Regions from separate parts of the Homo sapiens genome. Here region 1 is linked to region 2. Evidence: fine-mapped expression QTL. Tissue or cell type: whole blood. Region 2 holds a variant in brackets; the other region holds the start of a gene. All regions are shown on one strand. Distances are between the middles of the regions.

What was found. PIP is the estimated chance that this variant, and not a neighbour inherited with it, causes the effect.
Region 1: it holds the start of CCDC186, and the variant in region 2 is fine-mapped to the expression of CCDC186 in whole blood (INTERVAL, PIP 0.95).

The regions. Positions count from the first base shown.
Region 1 is chr10:114,170,346-114,177,700 of GRCh38, forward strand. CCDC186 (coiled-coil domain containing 186) reads right to left here and starts at 3,858. Exons shown (of 16, transcript NM_018017.4): 1 at 3,670-3,858. It overlaps MIR2110 (microRNA 2110), which reads right to left and starts at 3,834; the gene lies at 3,760-3,834. It also overlaps a transcript of TDRD1 not described here. RefSeq lists enhancers at 3,540-4,068, 3,664-3,863 and a silencer at 3,924-4,193.
Region 2 is chr10:114,223,970-114,231,324 of GRCh38, forward strand. TDRD1 (tudor domain containing 1) reads left to right here. Exons shown (of 25, transcript NM_001395205.1): 22 at 2,080-2,247; 23 at 3,103-3,330; 24 at 3,941-3,987; 25 at 4,069-7,355. The coding sequence ends at 4,161. Among named protein-coding and RNA genes, the nearest start is that of VWA2, 12 kb to the right of the region's middle. The variant G/C (reference allele first, on the strand shown) is at 3,822.

The DNA.
Region 1 (7,355 bases), 54 kb before region 2:
GAAACAGGGTCTTTTTCTGTCACCCAGGTTGGAGTGCAGTCAGAGGTCACTTGCAGCCTCAAATTCCTGGGCTCAACTGATCCTCCCACCTCAGCCTCCTAAGAAGCTGGGACTACAGGTACATGCCGCCAAACCCAGCTAATTTTTAAAAATGTTTTGTAGAGATGGAGTCTTGCTATGTTGCCCAGGGTGATCTCAAACTACTGGCATCAAGCAATCTTCTCACCTCAACCCCCCAAAAGTGCTGTGATTACAGATGTGAGCCACCATGGTTGGCACAAATTTAACTGTAATATACTGAGTTTAAGTGAAACAGCATTAGAATAAAAAAGTTTCCTTTAGTTCACCAGTTTGAAAAGTTTGTTTTATGAGACCAAGGTTATTTATCCCTGTGGGGGTATGTTTAGCTTTACAATCCAGACTCAGGGCAAGAACTTTATGATATGTGCATTATATCACACACACACACACAAAGATGTTTAAAAAAAAAGACTTGAGCAATAGATGCGGCAAGACCCCCCCACCCTCCACCAACTCCCAAATAGTACCAAATCCTGTGATAGGATAACAGGACAAAGAGAAATTATGGTCCATCAAAATTCCATGAAAAAGAGGGTCAGTGGCCACATCATAGTTCACCTTATCAAGTTACACCATATATGTCATATCAGCTCGGTAATTTTACATGTCTCCTATAAATACTTTAAAATACTAAAGCAGAAAGTTATCAGAAATGACTTCCTACTAATACAGAAATCTAATTTGAAGATTGCACTTGCACTTTAATGAGTCTAAGAAAACATGAAAAGTATTATCAGCTAATTTTCCTCCAAATCTGAAAAGGAATAAAGTAGGTAAAAAAAAATCTGACCTATAGTTCCTTTTTCAAAAAGGAAGGCTCTCAGGCCTTCCTTTACAGGTGGCTCACACCTGTAATCCCAGCACTTTGGGAGGCCTAGATGGGAGGATCAAATGAGGCCAGGAATTAAGAGAACAGCCTGGGAAACATAGCAAGACCTGGTCTATAAAAAATAATAATATATAATTTTTAATTAAAAAGATTAGTATGGTGGCCTGTGCCTGTTGTCCTAGCTACTCAGGAGGCTAAGGCAGGAGGATTGCTTGAGACCAGGAGTTCAAGGCTACAGTGAATTATGATCATACCACTATACTCCAGCCTGGGTGACAGATTGAGATCTTGTCTCAAAAAACTAAACAAAATGAAGCCTAGTATCTTTAAAAAAAATTTTTTTTCAAGTTATAAGCCTGCATTACATTAAAAAGTTTGGGTTAATGTTTAAATTTTGAAGACACCTTTGGCCAGAGTTGGTTAATTTGGTATGCTCTACTTTATTAAAAACATGAACTGATAGTCTACCGTGGGATTATGTAGTAAGTGCGGTAGACATTACATAGTCTACATAATCCCACAATTATCAGTTCAAGTGTCTTAATGATAGACAAATGTTAATAAGAAATACACTCACAATCCAATCAAAACTATGCTGGTGCTGATTTCCACTTTGTGTCTACTGTCCCTTCATCTCAGTATTTTTCCTTTTTCTTACTTTTTAGCCCAAATACATTTTTTAAATCTCAGTAGCTAAGAAAGTTCAAAGCAGTTTGAAACAATAGATTAAATTATCTATGATCTCACTGCTGCCCCTAAAATGAATACTAAGTATAACATTTGCAATACTGTAAACTCAGTGATATGTTTATGAGAAATTGAAAAACCAGCTTTAGTTATTTTAAGGTAGAGATAAAAGAAAAACCTAAGTTTTACTAAAAGAAAAAAAATTTCAGGGTAAGGATTCTTACTTTAACACGAAACTGTTGCATGAATTTGAGAAACTAGTGCAGATTACCAGTCCTTCTTCAAAGGGAAAGATTATTTTCTAAATCTCCAAATAAAGCTGCTTTGTGCTTCAACCTACTGTCTCTTCCTGGAGTCAGTATACTGCAATGCTTTTATCTTCACTCTGTGATGTCAGCATAAAGCTGCAAATAGATGTTTCTAAACTGAACATACTAAGCAATCATTAGCTATGCTGTCACTGCATAGCATTAAAGGACAACTCTACTTTATGGGTGAAAGAACTAAAAGGTTAGAGTGGTCACTGTGATACACACCAGCCAACCCTTTCCGTTAGCAATAAATAGGACTCAAAAGCCAATGACACACTATGGAATCTCCACTGTTTAAAGAAACCTTAAGTTTATATGCAGTTATTCTGAATTTAACAGGGCCTTTAAAAAACAAACACAATCCATGCATTTCCAGGGAGAATCTTCAGTAATCATACGTTTGCCTATTATGCTGTAAAAAGTTTTAATTCTTAATACTGCAAGATTCGTGATCTAATATCTTCACTGCATTAAAAATAACATGAAAAGACCAGAAATAAAAGAGAAAAATGAACCTAGCCAATCATTACTGTTTTTTATTTGTGTAATGTTGGATAAAGAATTGAAGTTACACAGGGAACAGTGTACATTACACACAGAGATAGTTCAGTTTCACTATCAATCTCTCTTGAACCTGAATCCTTCCCACGAGATGAACACTCGGTAAATATTAAGGTGTACTTGATAGTTGGGAAAGCCACACCCACAACTAGCATACCTAAATAGATAATAGCAGATTAATTTCTTCTGAATGACTACCAGCACACCTCTTGAAACCCTGATTTACTGAACACCTTAGAAGACAACACCCGGCCTATCGTTTTGGAAGAAAAAAAAGCTGGGCATCAAAGGAACATGACACACATGCAGAGAAAACGGCCAAGTACCTGGGACTGTACTGCGTATTTTTACTATATTCTCTCTTCTGATTTCCACAGGTAACAAGATTATCAAGTGAAAGAAGTAGGATTCTAATCCAGATGTTCTGACTCGAAATCCAGGACTTTTTCCTCTAAACAAAATCAAGATGGGAATATTAGGTGAAGTTGTTAAACTGTTAACAGCTAAGCAATACTCACACCTGCACTGTTTCCCAAGATTGCTACTTAGGGACACGTAGAAGGGTTTTTGTTTTGTTTTTGCCATTTTTCATTACTGATGGAGACATAAATCTGAAACCCCTTCCTTACCAACCAAGGTTTATGAAATGCCTTGACGTCCTTGAAAGACAACATAAAGAACAGTATCCACCACTCCAAAGAATCACTTCTAAGGAACTTAGAATCACAGTAATGGAAGTGTTTGGAAGAGGGTAACAAGTCTTCACAACAGTAAATATAAAACACCCACATACAGTCAACTTGAGACGAAAAACGAAATAGGCGATTGAGTCTAGGAAAGATTCTCGAGCAGGTAGGGCTTGGCTGCAGTTCACACGCAGCCCAGGCAATGGGCTCGAATTCAGACGCTCTCGAGGCACAGCCCCCACGACCCCCGCTGACCCCTCTTTGCCACCTCCAAGGTCCCGGAACCGAAGGAGGAAGGCAGGGAGAGGAAAGGGCTTGAAACCCGTTCCCCAGCCCTCCCCTTCCTCCGCGCCCTCAAAGGAGCCAGGCGGGGAGCCCGCTCGACCTCGACCTCCACCTCGCACTCGCCCTCGCCCCCGCCACGGAACGTGCAGGAAGGAGCGGAAGGCTGGCAGCCCCACCGCACCGCCACCGCGACTCACCGGTGTGCCCCGAGTACCCCTCAGACACTTACCCCACTTATCCAAGCCTCAGGCCACGCCCTAACAAGGCTGCTGGAGCTCTGGCTCAGGGGCCAACTTTTCCATAGCGGGGTCCAACCAGCCAAGAGTGGGAGGAAAAGACCGCGGTGAGAAACACAGCCGACGCCTCACTCAGCGGCCGTTTCCCCAAACCCCTGCGGAGCTGACACATCAACAAAGATGGCGGCGACACTGAAGCCGGCCCGGTTACAGCTGAGGGGGCGGGGGCTCCCTGGAGGAACCAATCAGCGCAGCGCGGGCGGGGTGACGCAGCACACCTTGAGGTCCTGGGTAACCTGTCTGCAGTGGGCTGGGCTGGCGGAGCTCACCTCCCACCTCCCGGCCCAGGAGGCCCCACCTTGCGGCCCGAGAGGCCCCGCCCCGCACTCCGCCTGGCTGGGCACCCACGCCTCCGCGACCTGGAGAGCCGGGTCTCCTGCCCTTTGGTCGGGTTCTTCCTTTCAAGCTCCTCCGGACCCACGCAGCCTGTTTCTTTCTGCAGGACGCTCTTGTTGGCTATTACTCCTCCTCACCCTTTGGCCTGCATGAGTCAGGGACATAAAGCAATAAAAGAGAATTTGAAATTGTGGCTTCCCGGCTCTCATGCGGAAACCTTGCACCTTACGTGGGCGGAGTCGGCTGGAGCAGGCTACGATGGGGGAGACCTCTGGGGGTTCCATAACAGCGCGTTCGTGTCTTCAGCGTGGCGCTGCTGCCATTGTTTAATAATAAACTGTCGGTGCCTTCGTCTCTGGCTTCAAGCTGAGCGCATTGATGGTAGGAAGTGTCCTCTCCCGGCTGAGTAACCTGGCACGCAGCATGGCAACAAAAAGTGTATTGGGTACAGTTGCCTCGCCCGGCCCAGAGAAGGAAGGTCAGCAGTTCAGTCTCTGGAGGTTTCGCAAACCTCCTCAGTCCGGGGAAACGATGTTCTTTGGTTTAGGTCTTACACATATCTCATGAATGAAAATAGCTGATGCAGACGATTCTGCAATGTAAGAATTTGTAAAGCAAAACTTACTACTGTTCTGTTAAGCGTCTTCGATACTGTTGGCAAAACACACACACGGAGGTGTAATGGCACCTCACTCCTCCTTAAATGAAGGTACTACACTGAAGCACATTTTGCAGTTAAAGTGTCTTGTCATAGAAAATAAATGATTTGACTTTAAAACAATAAATCGACCAAGCCTTCCTAGGGAGACATTAATCCAAGGGGAAAAAACTGAAGAAACCTTAAGCTGTTTTCGGTACTCGTCAGTAATAACATAGGTATTACTATTTCTGAATATTTCTGAATTTATAATTAGTATAAAGTATATAAATATATCTTTGTGAACCAAGTTTTTCACCATAAGAGAAAAGAAATACAAATATAAACCAAAGACATTATATTAAAATTCTGCAATCCTATATTTGAATTTACAAATATCAGAATTAACTCATGGTACATTTTTTTCGTGAAAAAAAAGGTGTGTCCACTGAAAACTCTTAGAACAGTGACCAACCCATTGCACACTCCTATTCCCCAGATTGTGATCTCTAAAGAGCATTGCCCAAAAAAAGTTACCTTGGCTTCTCTTGGAGGTTAAGTGCTGATTCCCAGTAGGGGCAAGAAATATGCAAGATAGCCTAGGACATATTGCTTGTAGCAGAAAGCAAGGAAGAAAAGCAAAGATAACATGAACTGTACCCAAAAGACTCAGAAGGCAGTTCAAAGATGCCCCAACTTCTCAAACAGGACAAATTTAGCATTCAAAAATAATAACAGCAACTGGTTGAGACGCACTATGTAAAAAAATCAGTGAGTGCATTTATTTTTTTTAATGTCATTGACCCTCTTGGAAAGATGCCAACAAGTCATTACAATCTGAGAACTGATAAAGAATCAAGCATTCATCCTACCTTTCCTGTTGCAAACTGAATGTCAATCAAATAGTCAATGTGGGGAAGCTCTTCTCTGTAGAACTCCATGTAATAATTGCAGAAAGAAAGATAGATGATCACCATTTTGCAAACCCTGATGAAATAATGGATCTAGGTAATGGTCATCTGTGAATCTAGAACCATTAGATGAAAAACTGATAGGAAGCTTCGTATTGTAATGGATGGATGGGGCTGGCACCACTTGAACCTACTAGATCAATCTTAATATCCTCCAAAGTGAAACAACTACATACTATGTATTTTCTGAAATGCTACAATAGAGAAGCACAACACCACCTGTGAAGTATTCCTGCCGGGGGATGCAATCAACAAAATTGAATGGAAAAAAAAAAAAACCCTGCAGTTACTGTAATAAATAAATTGCAAGAGAAGTACAGGATTTAAAGAGAAACCCCTTTTTAAAATATATCACTGAGTGCAAATACAGGATGTTTTGATACTGATTTGAACATATCAACGATTTAAGATAACATCTGAATGGCTGGGTGTGGTGGCTCACACCTGTAATCCCAGCCCTTTGGGAGGCCAAGGTGGGCTGCTTGAGCTCAGGAGTTTGAGACCAGCCTGGACAACACAGTGGGATCCCATCTCTAAAAAGAAAATTAAAAAATAACATTTGAGGTATCTGGAAATGTTTAGTATTAATTTTATGATATTAAGAAATTATGGCCAGGCACTATGGCTCACACTTGTAATCCCAGCTACTGAGGCAGGGTGATGGCTTGAGTCCAGCAGTTCAGGACTGCAGTGAACTATGACTGTGCCACTGCACTCTAGTCTGGGCGGCAGAGCAAGACCCTTTCAGAAAGAAAGGAAAGGAGAGGAAAGGAGAAAAAGGAGAAAAGAAAGGAAAGCAAGAGAAATTATTGTTTTTAAAGTTGGGATATGTTTTGGTGATATTACTTAAAAAGTGGTAATCTCTTAAAGACACCTACTTACAATATTTTTGGATGAAAAGATACAATATCCCAGAAAGTAATAAAGTGCTTAACAAACAAAATACCACCTGATGATAGTATGTGAAGGAACAGAAACCAACTGAAAGAGCTTCCTGTGGCCAAAGCTGGAAAAATCTGAGCAAGGAAATACAGTAGTTTTGGATTAGAAAAGTATAAAATAAGAAAAAAAAAGTATAAAATAAATATCCGAGTCCGTTATTAAATTAGTAAATGGAGAAGAGACAAATCTCCCATGCAGAAGAATTTCAAATAATTTCTGCAGATACTGCATCCTCAAAGAGGGACAACATAACTCCCTACTCCTTAAATGTGGGCTTCAAATAATAGCTTCCTTCCAAAGTGTATAGTATGAAAAGGGAAGGGAAAAAAAAGAATATAGTAGAAAGACCCAACAAACACTACCACAGCCAGATGACCAAATCCTACATCAATTGTCATAATCATATTCATAGGATGTATGCTTGATATGATGCAATAAAAATGGCATTTTTACCTCTGTGGTCTTCCTTCCAATAACCCGTAACTCCTTTCCTACCAGCAGAAAAACATCAGACAAATTCCAAAAGTAGGGCATCCTACAAAAGGCCTGAGAGTACTCCTGGAAACTTGACATCAAGGTCATCAAAACAAAGTCTAAGGAAGTCCCATGGCCAAGAAGAGCCTAAGGATCCATGAAAACTAAATGTAATATGATATCCTGATGAGATCTTGCATCAGAAAAGGGACAGTAGGTAAAAACGAAGGAAATCAAAAAGATGGGCTTTAGTTAATAC
Region 2 (7,355 bases):
GTTTCCTGGACGGCACTTCTGCCCCCCACACTGTGTTAGCTAGATTTCTTCTTCCTTCGTCCCACCTTGTTTTTTGGATCCCCAACTTCCCTTTTGATTTACTCCAGTATTTGGGTGGATCCTGTCCTCCAGAAGCTGAGAAAAGGTGCATGTAAGACAAATTTTCTGTTATCTCCCATGTTTGAAAAAGCCTTCAGCCTAATAGTTAATTGATAGGTTGCCTGGATGCAGAATTCTAGATTGGAAATGGTTTTTCACTTAAAATTTTGAGGCACTGCTTTTATTGTGTTTTAGCTATTGGTGTTTCTGGTCAAAAGATTAATGTTATTCCGGATTCCACAAACTTTGTATGTTTTTTCCGCCTTTCTGGAACTGTTAGTATTCTCACCTGTTTTGAAATTTATGATGTGACCTTAGTATGGTGTTTCTTTTTCTACCGTTTTGCTGGGCACTCAGTGGGTGGGCCCCTTACATCTAGAAATTCATGAGCTTCAGTTTGAGAAACTTTCCTGAATTAATGCTTTTAGTTGCTTTTGTTTTCTGTTCTGTTAGGAGCTTCAAGTCTTCTAATGCTGAATTTGAACTCTGCTAAATGTCCTCTTCTCTCTTTCATCTTTTTTGTTCTTAAAGAGATTTCCTCAATTTCACCTTCCAACTTTTTAAATTTAGGTTTTCATTTCTATCACATTTTTAATTTCAATAGCTTTTTTTGTTTTGTTTTTCATGTTTATGTGTTTTAATACTACCCTGTTCTTTCAAGAGTGGAATGTCATTTCTCCAAGGATATTACTGTCAGTCTTCTAATGTTCATTGTCATATTCCTCCTTGGTTTTCTGCCTTGGTTTCCCTAAGGTCCTGTTTTGTTTTGGTCTCCTCTGTGATGTTAGAGGCTTTCTGCAAATCTCTGGTGATCCTATGCTGTTCCTGTATTTAAGATGGGGCACTGAGAAGTTACTGGGAAGTTGCTTTGAGAGTGGGCAGGGGCTTTTCCACTGATGGCCTTCACTGTGGGTGATCTGGCTCTGCCATCTCACTGCAGACTCCCAGTGTCGCCATCTTGATGGGCTGTCACATGGACTGGTGGCCTCCTGCCTGGAGTGCACAGCTTGCCTGCCAGTGTTAAACTCTCCCTTGTCTACTCTGCCTCACGTTCTCCAGTCCATGCCCTCTGTGGTTCATTCTCTCAGGAGAGGAAACCTCCAGTCTTCTGCCCTCAAGTAGCAGCATTATTAAAACATGGGAACACAAAGCTCACCATTCTCTTTAGCAACTTTAAAAATAGGTGTTATATGCAAATGAGTGTATGAACCAAAGCCTATTCAGATGTCTTTGCAAGTAACTCTGCTTCCTTGGCCAATCTTCATTTCCAACTCCATCTTAACTCCTGCTTTTGAATGAGCAGCACCAATCGTTGAGACTTCAGGGGTTGGGGATTTGTGATGCAAGCTGGGATGCTTCTTGGCTTCCCCACTGCCAACTTTGGTTGAGCTACCATGGCTCTACTAAATCATTTTCATTCAGGCATCTGCTTTCCAGCTTCCAATATTCTGTTGTCTTTTCTCTTGTTCTCTACTCTATTCTACGCATTTAAAAAAAAAAAAAAAATCTGGCCGGGTACAGTGGCTCACGCCTGTAATCCCATCACTTTCGGAGGCTGAGGCAGTAGGATAGCTTGAATTCAGGAGTTCAAGACCAGCCTTGGCAGCATGGCAAGACTATCTCTACCAAGAATAAAAAGTTAGCTGGGCATGGTGGTGTATACCTGTATTCCCAGCTACTCAAGAAGCTGAGGTGAGAGGATCACTTGAGTCTGGGAGGTGGAGGTTGCAGCGAGCCAAGATTGTGCCACTGCACTCCAGCCTGGGCTGCAGAGCCAGACCCTGTCTCAAAAAAAAAAAAAAAAATTCTATTACATTTTTCATAGGAATGTAGAGGTAAATGCTTGTATTTAATTTGAACTGTAACCAGAAATTTTGGCATGGATTTTTAAGTGATGTAAATATAACTATGAATAGCCATCTTAAAGTAGGAGGAATCACTGACTGTAAGTTCTTACCTGAGATTTCATTCTGTTTTCAGGTGATGATTTTTGGTATCGTGCAGTTGTTCTGGGGACATCAGACACTGATGTGGAAGTGCTCTATGCAGACTATGGAAACATTGAAACCCTGCCTCTTTGCAGAGTGCAACCAATCACCTCTAGCCACCTGGCGCTTCCTTTCCAAATTATTAGATGTTCACTTGAAGGTAGACAGCTAAGTCACTTTCCAATTTAGGTTTCTGGGTATTTTTTTTTTCCTCTTTATGTTTCATAGCTCTAAGTCGGAATCAAATGGGTATTTCCAGTAACTGCCTTAATGTTTTTAAATATTAAGAGTTTTCAAATAAGTTTCATATTCTTTATTCTTTATCGAATTCTCACAAAAACTGTGTTCAGTCAGTCTTTGTTTTGTAGATTAGTTTCAGAGGGCCAGGGTTCAGAGATTCGGTTTTGCCCCTGGTTGCTAAGCTAGTAAGTGGCAAGGCCAGGATGTGAAACAGGGTGTCTGGTGTCTGTGAACCAGGGTGTCTGACCTCTCATTTGGGGTCTTTCTGCTTCGTCACATCTCTCTTTAGGGACTAAAGGCATTCACATGACACCATTTTTGGCTACCTTATGAAAGATAAATCTGCATATATTCAACTCCTTAGTTGGAATTTGAACAAAGTGAACAAAAATACTTAAAGTAGCTTTTTACTGTCGCTCCTGATGTCCTTATGCAGAGGACTTGCAGATAATACCATACCGATTGCTTCATGGTCCTCTTAGGTTTTGACTCAGAGTTGGAAAATTATCTTTGTTTCTCCTGTTGGAATATATGAAGGACAGATGTGTCTGTTTCGTGCCCTCTAGTCCAAGATTAGTGCTTGATGCCTTGTTAGGTGATCAATCAATATGTATTGAATAAATTTGTCTTTTGTAATGCAACAGCAGTAGTACATCAGAACACACCTAAATCCAGCTGAAGTCCAGTAAGCCTTTTGCTTATTATTCTTAGATAATTTATCTAAATTCTGTCTTTTTAAAAGGGACTAAAAGACTATAATATCTATTTTTTCCAGGATTAATGGAATTGAATGGAAGCTCTTCTCAATTAATAATAATGCTATTAAAAAATTTCATGTTGAATCAGAATGTAATGCTTTCTGTGAAAGGAATTACAAAGAATGTCCATACAGTGTCAGTTGAGAAATGTTCTGAGAATGGGACTGTCGATGTAGCTGATAAGCTAGTGACATTTGGTCTGGCAAAAAACATCACACCTCAAAGGCAGAGTGCTTTAAATACAGGTATTCTTTTCAAGTGTTATTAATAACAGATGTTAAGTGTGAGGAATAACAGATAATCAATTTAGTTGACTTGACCTTTTCTCACTTCCCATGCCATACTCTCTCCTCCTCCTCCACAAATCCAGTGGCAGGGTTCTGATTCCTGTGGCTGCCTGGGAGGGCCGCCTTGATGGAGGCAGTCCTCCGAGTCCAGATAGTCCTTAGATCAGACTTGTCAGCACTGCTGTGGGAATTGACACCAAGAGCTTTGAAAATGCCAGGCATTCTGCGTGCTTCTTATTTCCAATTTACTTTCTATCCTGATCAAACTGAGAAGTCATATTTTTGAGATTCCATCTTCCTGGTACTTCATAAGATGTATATTTGACAGACCTGGCCTCAATCAAAAAGAGAGATGATTGACAACCAAAACCTTGGAGACATGGGTTGTTAATGTGGTCAAATCCAGACCATGGTAGTAGATAATCTCAAAGCCCAAATGGATCCATCCA[G/C]GTCTTTGTAGTCGGAACCCATGCGCAAGGGGGAGAGCTATCTGTATATGTTTACACTCCCAAGTTTTTCTTCTTTACATTATGTGTTATCTAATGGCTTATTTTTCTTGTGCTTTTAGAAAAGATGTATAGGATGAATTGCTGCTGCACAGAGTTACAGAAACAAGTAGGTAAAATTTCCTTTAAGTGAAATTATACTCCTAACGTTTTTAGAAATTAAATCATATGGTTTCTTTTTCACCCACAGGTTGAAAAACATGAACATATTCTTCTCTTCCTCTTAAACAATTCAACCAATCAAAATAAATTTATTGAAATGAAAAAACTGTTAAAAAGTTAAGTAAGTTAAATCGTATGTTTTCGCCTCTTCTGTGATCACCAATAGGACATCTTCAGGCATATTGGCAGGATAGAGCTAATGGAGTGAAACCTATTGTAAGGCTGTACTTTCGTGATTTAATGACCTGAGGTTTGGTCATAATGCTTCTGCTGTTTTTGTAGGTTTATCTGATCGTTTTCCTTTGCTACTGCTAATGGAACTGAACCCCCAGGGGTATTCCAGTTGTAATAGCCTTTCCTTACTGTTGTTTGGTTCTGTGAATGCCTATGTTATTGATATGTGGAGGGACTTGTAAAACTTGTTGTGACATAAAGCTTAGCCTCAGATTTTTTGTCTAGATCTGAAATTAACTCAGAGCTCACTTATGCACATTGCTGTAAATATGTTTAGCACTTTTTGCGAGGGGTATCTAAAGGGCCAAGAACGGAAAGTGGATCTAAAGGGCCAAGAACGGAAAGTGGGCTGCACTGAGGGTATTTTTCATTTAAAAACAAAACATACTCCCTGCTTTTGGCTGTGGTGATTCTAGTGTCTAAAGAACATACTGGTGAGTTTTAAACCAGTGTTCCTCCCCACCCCACCCCCATATTTTAAATGTCTGGGATCCTTTGTTGTAAGATGGTTCTCAGAAATAAATTTTTGATTAAGAGCCAATTAGAACTTCTGATCAGGGCTGGGGGTGGTGGCTCACGCCTGTAATCCCAGCACTTTGGGAGGCTGAGGCGGGCAGATCACCTGAGCCCAGGCGTTCGAAGTCAGCCTGGCCAAGATGGCGAAACACTGCCTCTACTTAAAATACAAAATTAGCTGGGCATGGTGGTGCACACCTGTTAACCCAGCTACTTGGGAGGCTGAGACAGGAGAATCGCTTGAATCCAGGAGGCGGCGGTTGCAGTGAGCCAAGACTGCTATTATACTCCAGCCTGGGTGACAGAGTGAGAGTTTGTCTCAAAAACAAAACAAAACAAAACAAAAAAAAAAACAACCTCTAATCTCAGAATAAAGTTGTCTCTCCTCACCACTTTGAGTTGTTACAGTTCCAGCCAAAAGCAAAGGAACTTTGATTTACTTAATATGTGCACTTTTGTTGGTTAACAAATTTATATTAAACTGTTTGGAAATAGTTCAAGAGGTGGCTATAATACTCTTCATGAATCTTTTATGGGTGTAGTAACTCTCAAGTAGGAACCAACTGCCAACTGTGTTAAAACATATCTTTCATGTGGTAATAGACCGTTTCTTTGCGTTTTAAGAAAGGTCAATTGAATTATAAGCTAAATGTAATTAATGCAAGATCAACTATCTTGACTCTCATGTTTCCTTTTACAAATTTTGGGTTATTACAACTTTCAGTCCTTTCTAATACATTGTCTTAATACTGACTGTTTTGTATGTTTAAGCTTAAAATCTTTTAATCTTTTTTTTTTTTTTTTTTGGAGACGGAGTCTTGCTCTGTCACCCAGGCTGGAGTGCAATGGCGTGATCTCGGCTCACTGCAAGCTCCACCTCCCAGGTTCACGCAATTCTCCCACATCAGCCTCCCAAGTAGCTGGGACTACAGGCGCACACTGCCACACCCGGCTAATCTTAAACTTAATGGTGATTTTAATTTCATAGATCAAGGAACATGCAATGACATGGATTTCTGGAATTTAGTCCTAGTATCAAGTCACTATATATATATATATTTTTTTTTTATTTTTTATTTTTATTTTTTTTTGAGACAGTCTCGCTCTGTTGTCCAGGCTGGAGTGCAGTGGCGCTATCTCAGCTCACTACAACCTCCGCCTCCCGGGTTCATGCCATTCTCCTGCCTCAGCTTCCCAAGTAGCTGGGACTATAGGTGCCCGCCACCACACCCAGCTAATCTTTTTGTATTTTTAGTAGAGACAGGGTTTCACCGTGTTAGCCAGGATGGTCTCGATCTCCTGACCTCGTGATCTGCCCTCCTCGGCCTCCCAAAGTGCTGGGATTACAGGCGTGAGCCACTGCGCCCGGCCACCAAGTCATTACATTTTTAACCAAGTTGGTTGGCCTGTATGTTCTTCTTATCTGTGTAACAGGCATTTTTCCTAAGGATATTGAGTGTGCTTACACATAAAACTTAAAGTGAAATTTCATTGTTTCTTGATAGATTTAAGACAGGGCTTAGTAGCTTTCAAAAGAAAACTTGATTTAAAGCATAGTAGTTGAACTGGATTTTTCCTGACTGTGGGAATAAATAGATATTTTATTTACATTTGAATACAGTGCAATACCTTGTGTTTGGGTAGTACGTATTTACAAAGCATTTTTACATCTACTCACATACTTAATCTTCACAATGCCCTTGAAAAGAAAGTAGGACCCATTTTACAGTTAAGGAAGCTGAGGCTCAGAGAGGGTTACATGACTGTCCAAAATCACATACAGGCTGAAACACTAGGTCTTACGACTTAAAACAGTTGTGTCAACTTCCCTGAGCTGCTACGTGTACAGTATCCTTTTAGATCAGATCAGTTACATAGGGCATGAAACTAGAGGGTTACATTATTAGGAAAAAATAATGTACATGATTGCTTAAGCATTACTTCATTGTGGTGAAAATAGAGCTGAATATTTACTCCTTTAAATTATTCTTTGAGATAGAATGGGTGTAAAAATGTATTTTGGCTGGGCATGGTGGCTCAGGCCTGTAATCCCAGCACTTTTGGGAGGCTGAGGAGGGCAGGTCACATGAGGCCCAGGAGTTTGAGACCATCCTGGCCAACATGGTGAAACTTTGTCTCTACCAAAAAAAATATAGAATTAGCCAGGTGAGGTGGCGTGCACCTGTAGTCCCAGCTACTGGGGAGGCTGAGGCAGGAGAATTGCTTGAACCCAGGAGCCGAAGGTTGCAGTGAGCCGAGATGGCACCACTGCACTCCAGCTTGGGCAACAGAGTGAGACCCTGTCTCAAAAAAATAAAATAAAAGACAAACACATGTATTTCATCATCTGGAGAAATTTAATTGTTAGCAATTTAATTGTAAAATTGCTAAAACAGAAGTGCTGTGGTGATATGAACATAAAACCCTCTGTAATCTGTTGCTCAGGTGATGTTTCAACACACAAGTTAATGTCAGATATCTTTTATATATAAGGAGAGTGCAAACAACTATATGTTATATTTGTGAAGGGGAGTATAAACAGCTGTACTTAGCATATATTATGCT